2 linked regions of the Homo sapiens genome follow. The protein of the gene in region 2 interacts with the protein of the main gene of each other region in a biochemical or structural test. Each region holds a gene or a part of one and is shown on either strand. Other genes may lie near its edges.

Region 1 (3,829 bases), on a different chromosome or scaffold from region 2:
TTATAGAGAAACAAAAATGTGTGTCTTTTGTGGAAAGGAAAATTTGTTTCGCAAGATATGTTGTAATCTTGATTTCACATTATTAGCTAAGAATTACTATTATCTGTATAATTATTTTACATATAGCTATTACATTGTTTCTTGTAAGAAACATAAGAATATTACTATTTGTATGTAACAGCATTGATATCAAACTGACTATATTTCCAAATGGTTACTTTAAGAATCTACTGAGCTCTCTTCTGTAGTAACGAAGTCCCACCCTTTTTTTGTCTAAAAAGAGCTACTGGAAACCTGAAGTGATGATTGCTGCTCAGGGACCACTGAAGGAGACCATTGGTGACTTTTGGCAGATGATCTTCCAAAGAAAAGTCAAAGTTATTGTTATGCTGACAGAACTGAAACATGGAGACCAGGTTTGTACTTTTGAGGATTTTCTTTTAAGCCTTTCTGTCATAAAACGTCATTCTCTAGTCTTGGATTGCTTGCTTCATCGCCATACCCACGTCTTTTTTTATCCCTCCATCACATAATTCTGTCTGCTCAGTCTTACCCCTTTCACCCTGGTGTTGGCCTCCATCAGCTGTGTCTGGATTCTGACAGTCTCTCCTGTTTGTCCCCTCCAGTCTTGCATGCTGCTCACAGATTAGCCAGGATGCAGCAATGTCAGCGTCACAGCAAATAACAGCTACATTTTCACGCTGTTTTCCTCATTTTCTCAAGATAAAAGCCAAGATCTTTTTGTGATATCCAGCACCCTGGACAATCACCCCCTCATGTGTCTTTCATCTTCCTCCCATTTTTATGTTTTCCATCCTCTCCACTCTGGACAAGCAGGTTTCATGCCCAAGCCTAAACACGCCATTTGCATTGTCATCACTGAGTCTAAACTTATTGATATTCCATGTAACTAAATGTGTGCTGTCTTCCAGTTTTGACCCTATTCTTTTAACAAGACCAAACTCCTGAAAAATGTATCTATATCATCCTTTCTTTATTCCCATATAATATTTATTGCCATAAAAGTCTATAGTTGAAGGTGAATCTAAGCTATAATTTGATTTTTTTACTTAATGCTTGTGACAGATATTTTATCCTTTTCTTAATGTCTTCAGTTATTATTAAAATTTCCCTGGTGGTAGATCTCACTCAGCTTTAGCACCAACCACATTATCTGACATATGTTCAAGCCTATTCAGTGAATAACCTTATAAGTATGCAAAAGATTTATGCTTTTTTATGCCCCTCTCTCTCCCCTAAATCTCACTCTTTCTCACCCTCACCTGGTCCCCTTCCCCTGTACATGGAAAGTTGCTTTTTATGTTTTTTGTTTTAAAGGAATATAAGTCCAGATTTCTAGCATGGAATTCCCACAATCCTTTCCTTCATATAAATTGTGAAAGCTGGGAAACAGGATGGAAGTACCGGCAGGACTCCCTGTCTTTGTCAGAAATTGTGGGGTTGTAGTTGGTAGACAACAGTTTGTAGTAAGAAGAAACACTTTTGTGGTTCATCTACTCTTCAATCTGGCCCTTTCCTTAGCTATGTAGACAAAATATATAAAGCTGCTTATGGTGTTGGTCAACAAGATGACAGAGACAAAGCTCCAAAAGATGCAGCCTCCTTCCTCAAGAACCACTGAAGGGACAGTGGGACCTGAGTTATTGAAAGGGTCATGAATAACATTGACTCATGCCAGCCATAAATATTGAAGAGGTCATGATAAGCATGTGGAAAAGAGGAGCAAACCTCAAAGACCTACACTAAGGAAAACAGCTGTTCCGGGGGTGTCCCAGTCACCTCGATTGTGCTCAGCTTCCCTTTTCTTACACAAGGAAACACCACATATTTATTAAATGGGTCGCCAGCACTTAAATAGATTCTGGATTTTTATAAGTAGGTTTCAATTTTAGAACACAATAATTTTCATTTAATAGAAAAGAGGCACAGACAGAGAAAGAAAGGGAGAAAGAGGGAGACTGATCCTTTGCATATTTCAAATAGGAAACAAATTGTTGAATTGTCTTCTTTTATCTAGGAAATCTGTGCTCAGTACTGGGGAGAAGGAAAGCAAACATATGGAGATATTGAAGTTGACCTGAAAGACACAGACAAATCTTCAACTTATACCCTTCGTGTCTTTGAACTGAGACATTCCAAGGTATGGAAACAATTTGGGGAGTATATTTCTTTGATATAATGGATCTGGTAGCAAAATGAATATAAATTACTCTATGCAGGCAAGGCCATCATATAAATAATGTTTCAGAATAACATTTTAAAATTATTTAAATAGAAGTAACTGTGAAGAAAATATGACTATCAAATTAGAAAATAAGCTGAACTTCACTCCAGTTAATGCTCTCTTCAATTCTGATTTTAGAGGAAAGACTCTCGAACTGTGTACCAGTACCAATATACAAACTGGAGTGTGGAGCAGCTTCCTGCAGAACCCAAGGAATTAATCTCTATGATTCAGGTCGTCAAACAAAAACTTCCCCAGAAGAATTCCTCTGAAGGGAACAAGCATCACAAGAGTACACCTCTACTCATTCACTGCAGGTGCGTGGGATTTGGTAGAATGTGCTCTCAAAATCATAATGCTTGACTTCTCGGTTCACATGTTGTCTTATCTAGTTATCCTCATATATGAAACACATAACCACAGTAAAAACTTCTTATGGAGTCGGTCACTCTCTTGGTTGTTTCCACAACACAACTATTGTAGAAATATAATAGAAGTGATTATATTATAGTGCAATAATTTTAAGTTGTGTTTTTTAATACTTGGTGTCATGTCATCTTTGATTCCTTGGTAGCTAACATTGAGCCAGGAATGTCATTTGTGTGAATGAATTAATGAATGGAAGGGTGTGTGAACAGATAGGTAGATGGGTATCACCTTACACATATACCCATATACATTGATCTACTCTATTAGGTGTCACAAAGACACCTAATATGTTTAATGAACACAAAGTTTATTAAACATATTTTAAGTTAAATATTAACTGAAATCACAAAGCTTAGCAATTTTGATTTGAAACTCATTATTTAATTTTCTAAACTGAACCAAAGGCAAAGATTGTGGTAATATCAATAATACTACTAGATTTTATTAGTTTCTTCATCTGTGATAGGTGCTTACATATTCACCTTAAATAAGCAATATAATTGAAAGAAAGATATATAATATAAAAGTTTACATGAAAAAGAATATTGAAGTAAATGAGAAACGAAAAATAGTAAAGTAAAATGAGAAATGTTTATCTAGTGAAAAACTTTTGGAATTTTTGAAAAAGTCTAATTGTTATTATTGGAATTGCATATACTAGAATCAAGCCTTAAGAAATATATGAATTTTCAGCATTTATGTGGAAAGAAAGCTGAGGAAGGGAAGTTTACACTGTAAAACTATATATGTTTCTTAGAATATGATTTATGTACAATAACTAAAGTGTCCTGCTGATAACATATTGTTTAAATTGAATCTTTATGATAATGCTTTATACTTCTCATTGTTTGGTAAACTATTTGATTGCCCTCTTTTTAGTGAATAATTCTACTAGGTATTACTTTTCTACTGATGCAGAAGTGAAAACATTTGTGAAACGTGGTAGAGAGGCAGAAGAGTGAAGAAGAGCATGTGTTCTAGTAATTTACAAAATATTAGGTCTAATATTTCTGATTACATCAGCTTTCTCTTCTCCAAATCTTGGTTTCCTTATCTATCATACTGGCATTCTGATATTGGTTTCAACAACTTCAGATGTAAATAAAAATGCATTAAAATCCATAAAATACTAAATAAAAGAAAATATATTTGTAA
Region 2 (3,829 bases):
AGTGTTGTTGAAGATCATTTGTCTATAATTATGTGGTTTTATTTCTGGATTCTCTATTCTGTTCCATTGGTCTACATGTCTATTTTTATACCAATACCATGCTGTTTTGGTTACTATAGCTTTATAATATATTTTGAAGTCAGATAATGTGATGTCTGCAGCTTTGTTCTTTTTGCCCAGGTTTGGTTTGGTTGTTTGGGCTTTTTTCTTTTTCCTTTTTTGGTCCCATATGAATCACATTGGTATTTTGATAGGGATTTCATTGAATCTGTAGATTGCTTTGGCAATATGGTCATTTTAGTGATATTAATTCTTTCCACAAGCATAGGATGTTTTTTGATTTATTTTCTTTCATTGGTGTTTTGTAGTTTTCTTTGTAGAGATCTTTCACCTCCTTAGTTAAATGTATTCCTAGGTTTTTGTTTGTTTTCGGTAGCTATTGTAAATGGGATTGCCTTCTTAATTTCTTTCTTGGCTAGATCCTTATTGATGTATAGAAATGCTACTGATTTAAAGGTTTTCTAAACCTACAGATATATAATCAGCAAAGAGACAATTTGACTTTCTCTTGTCCAGTTTGGATGCCTTTCATTTCTTTCTCTTGTCTGATTGTTCTGGCTAGGATTTCCAGTACTGTGGTGAATAGGAGTGGTGAAAATGGGCATCCCTGCCTCATTCCAGCTTTTAGAAGAAAGATCTCACCTCTCCTCATTCAGTATGATGTTAGCTCTGGGTTTGTTGTGTATAGACTTTATTATTTTGAGATATATTCCTTCTATGCCTAATTTGTTGAGAGTTTTTTTAATCATGAAGGGATGTTGAATTTTATCAAATGTTTTTGTTGTTGTTGCAATACTCTTTTTTTTTTTTTTTTTTTTTTTTTTTTGAGACAGAGTCTTGTTCTGTTGCCCAGGCTGTAGTGCAGTGGCGCGATCTTGGCTCACTGCAACCTCCACTCACTGGGTTCAAGCAATTCTCCTGCCTCAGCATCCCTAGTAGCTGGGATTACAGGCCTGTGCTACCACACCCAGCTAATTTTTCTATTTTTAGTAGAGACAGGGTTTTGCTATGTTGGCCAGGCTGGTCTCGAACTCCTGACCTCAAGTGATTTGCCTGCCTTGGCCTACCAAAGTGCTGGGATTACAGGCGTGAGGCACTGAGCCCGGCTGTTGCGATACTCTTAATGGGTTTTATATTTCCTTTTTGTGGGGGACAGTTTATTTTGCATTCTTACTACTTTTGATATTCTGACATCATCTTATAAGTGGGATTTATATTCACTATGTAATTGAAGTTTTTTCCAATGAAGCACCGTATATAGTTTATCTGGGAAATTGGCTGAAGAATAAAATGTGTGATGTTATTCAGTGTACAGTTTCTAGGTCATCAGAAGATACCACTACCTTCCCACTACTGGAAAAGAAAAAAGAAAAGTTTTCCACAGTGCCTGAACTGTTTTGTATGCTTATCTTTTAAAATTGCCAGAAATCTCACTTACTGGAGATTCAGCAGTCCCTTTCTGAAAATACACATACTTTAGTGCAAATAAAGCCAGTGGATCTCTTTCTTCATAAGTCCTTAAACCTAGTCGAGGTCATCTGTTTGGCAGAGATAGGAGTAAGATAATGTGAAATAGGAACCAACGAGAGAGAACTTGCTTAGGAGTTGAAAGGGGTATGGAAAGATGTTAGAGGTAAAATTTGTCGAATCTAGTGTTTTGACTAGGGCAGGCCAGAATATTCAGTATCAGTATCAATATCAGAAGCTTTTGTAGCCTTTGTTTAGAAACCTAGTCATTTATAACATTTTGTGGGTGAATGACATCATTACCAAACAAACTTTCAGATGAAACTTTGGAACTCAAGCTGTAAATTGTGGATAGCTCATGTGCAGTACTACAAATCAAAACAAATACTATAAAGTGTTTGGTAGTCCATTTCCTGAATGAAAGTTTGTCCAAAGTATATCAACTTTCTGCAGTCTTACATGCAGTAGTTATTAGTTTTGTGTATCGCTTTAGTGGATATTTTTAAAAGTATCTTCAAATGCAATGAATTTTAGGAAACAAAACAATTCTTTAAAGCATCATTAGATAGCTTCTTCTTTCTGAAACCCAGAGGAATTTATGTATAGGATGACTCTTTTTTTCAAGTAGTTAAGTTAAGGTGCAAAAGTATAAGGTAAAGTATATTATCTTACCATTGAAAATTTTGGCAGTGGCAGAAGAGCGAACCCTTACAAATACCTTCATTGGGCAATACACTAAGCACTTGCTGTAATGCTTTTTAAAACATCTATACTCTGGCTGTGGTATTTTAAGTGAAAATCTCTCAGTGAGATACTCTTTCGTATTTTAGTACTGATATCCTTAATATTGCTCTGAGAGCTACCTTATACTGACTTCAGTTTCCTAGTGATTTAAACTACTAATTTCCAACTTATTTTTTTTTATAGTGAAAACTAAATATTCCTTTTGTAGATGTAACCATTTCTGGAAGCCCTAAGTATTTTTGAATGAGTATAATTCATGCACACTTTAAGAGATTTCAAGCATGACAAGCACAGTGAATAACATATATCCATGTGATTACCACTGAGGTTTAAGAAATGTTAACATATGATATCTGCTTCAGATATTTATCTTTTTAAAAATAGAACATTACAGCTGGGCATGGTGGCTCACACTTGTAATCCCAGCACTTTGGGAGGCTGAGGCTGGTGGATCACCTGAGGTCGGGAGTTCGAGACCAGCCTGGCTGACATGGAGAAACCCCGTCTCTACTAAAAATACAAAATTAGCCGGGCATGGTGGCACATGCCTGTAATCCCAGCTACTCGAGAGGCTGAGGCAGGAGAATCGCTTGAACCTGGGAGGCAGAGGTTGCGGTGAGCGAGATCACAACTCCAGCCTGGGCCACAAGAGTGAAACTCAGTCTCAAAAATAATAATAATAAATAAAAAATAGAACATTACAGATCCAATTGACTCTTCTTTGTATTGCTCCTTTTTTTTTTTTTTTTTAGTTTTATTTAAAAATTTTTTTTAGAGGCTGAGTCTCACTTGGTGGCCTGGGCTGGAGTGCAGTGGCGCAGTCATAGCTCACTGCAGCTTCACACTCCTGAGCTCGAGCAATCTTCCTGCTTCAGCTTCCTGAGTAGCTTGGACTAGCAGAGGTGTGCCACCACATCTGGCTAATTAAAAAAAAGTTTTTAGAGATAGGATCTCTCTGTGTTGCTCAGGTTAGTCTCAACACCTGGCCTCAAGTGATCCTCCCACCTCAGCCTCCTGAGTAGCTGTGGTTGTAGGTGGCAGCCACCACACCTGGCAGTATCCCTTCTTGAGACCACTGACCTTTCCCAGAAGTAATCACTGTCCTGAAGTTGGTATAGATTCTTTCTGTCTACATCTATGCATGTTTATGCTCAAAAACAATATATTGCTTTGTGTGTCTTTAAAATGTATATAATGGTTTTATGCTATATCTTTCTTTCTGCAACCTGCATTTTTCACTTAAAATAATTTTGAAATTTAGTCCTGTGGATATATAGTGAGCCAATTAATTCTGCTTAGCTACTCTGTAGTCTGTTTTGTGAATATACCACAATCATCTACTTTCTTATTAGAGGACAATTTAGGCAGTTCCAATTTTATTTTTCCCGGAATGTACATTATTTTAGTCGAGTGCCATTGCCACATTAGCGATATTTTGGTTAGTGAGGGACTGCAGATAGGAAGGTGATCCCAAAAGATTATAATGCCATATATTTACTCTACCTTTCTATATTTACATATGTTTAGTTACACAATTACCCATTATGTTACAGTTGCT

What was found.
Region 1: of the proteins of NSF (region 2) and PTPRC, one has a biochemical effect on the other in vitro, tested with the Homo sapiens proteins (one large-scale study listed by IntAct).

What each region holds. Positions count from the first base shown.
Region 1 is NC_000001.11:198,750,211-198,754,039, forward strand, and holds part of PTPRC (receptor-type tyrosine-protein phosphatase C isoform 1 precursor), read left to right. Parts: intron 1-281; coding exon 282-416; intron 417-2,038; coding exon 2,039-2,161; intron 2,162-2,383; coding exon 2,384-2,562; intron 2,563-3,829. UniProt on the Homo sapiens protein: Protein tyrosine-protein phosphatase required for T-cell activation through the antigen receptor. Acts as a positive regulator of T-cell coactivation upon binding to DPP4.
Region 2 is NC_000017.11:46,596,931-46,600,759, forward strand, and holds part of NSF (vesicle-fusing ATPase), read left to right. Parts: intron 1-3,829.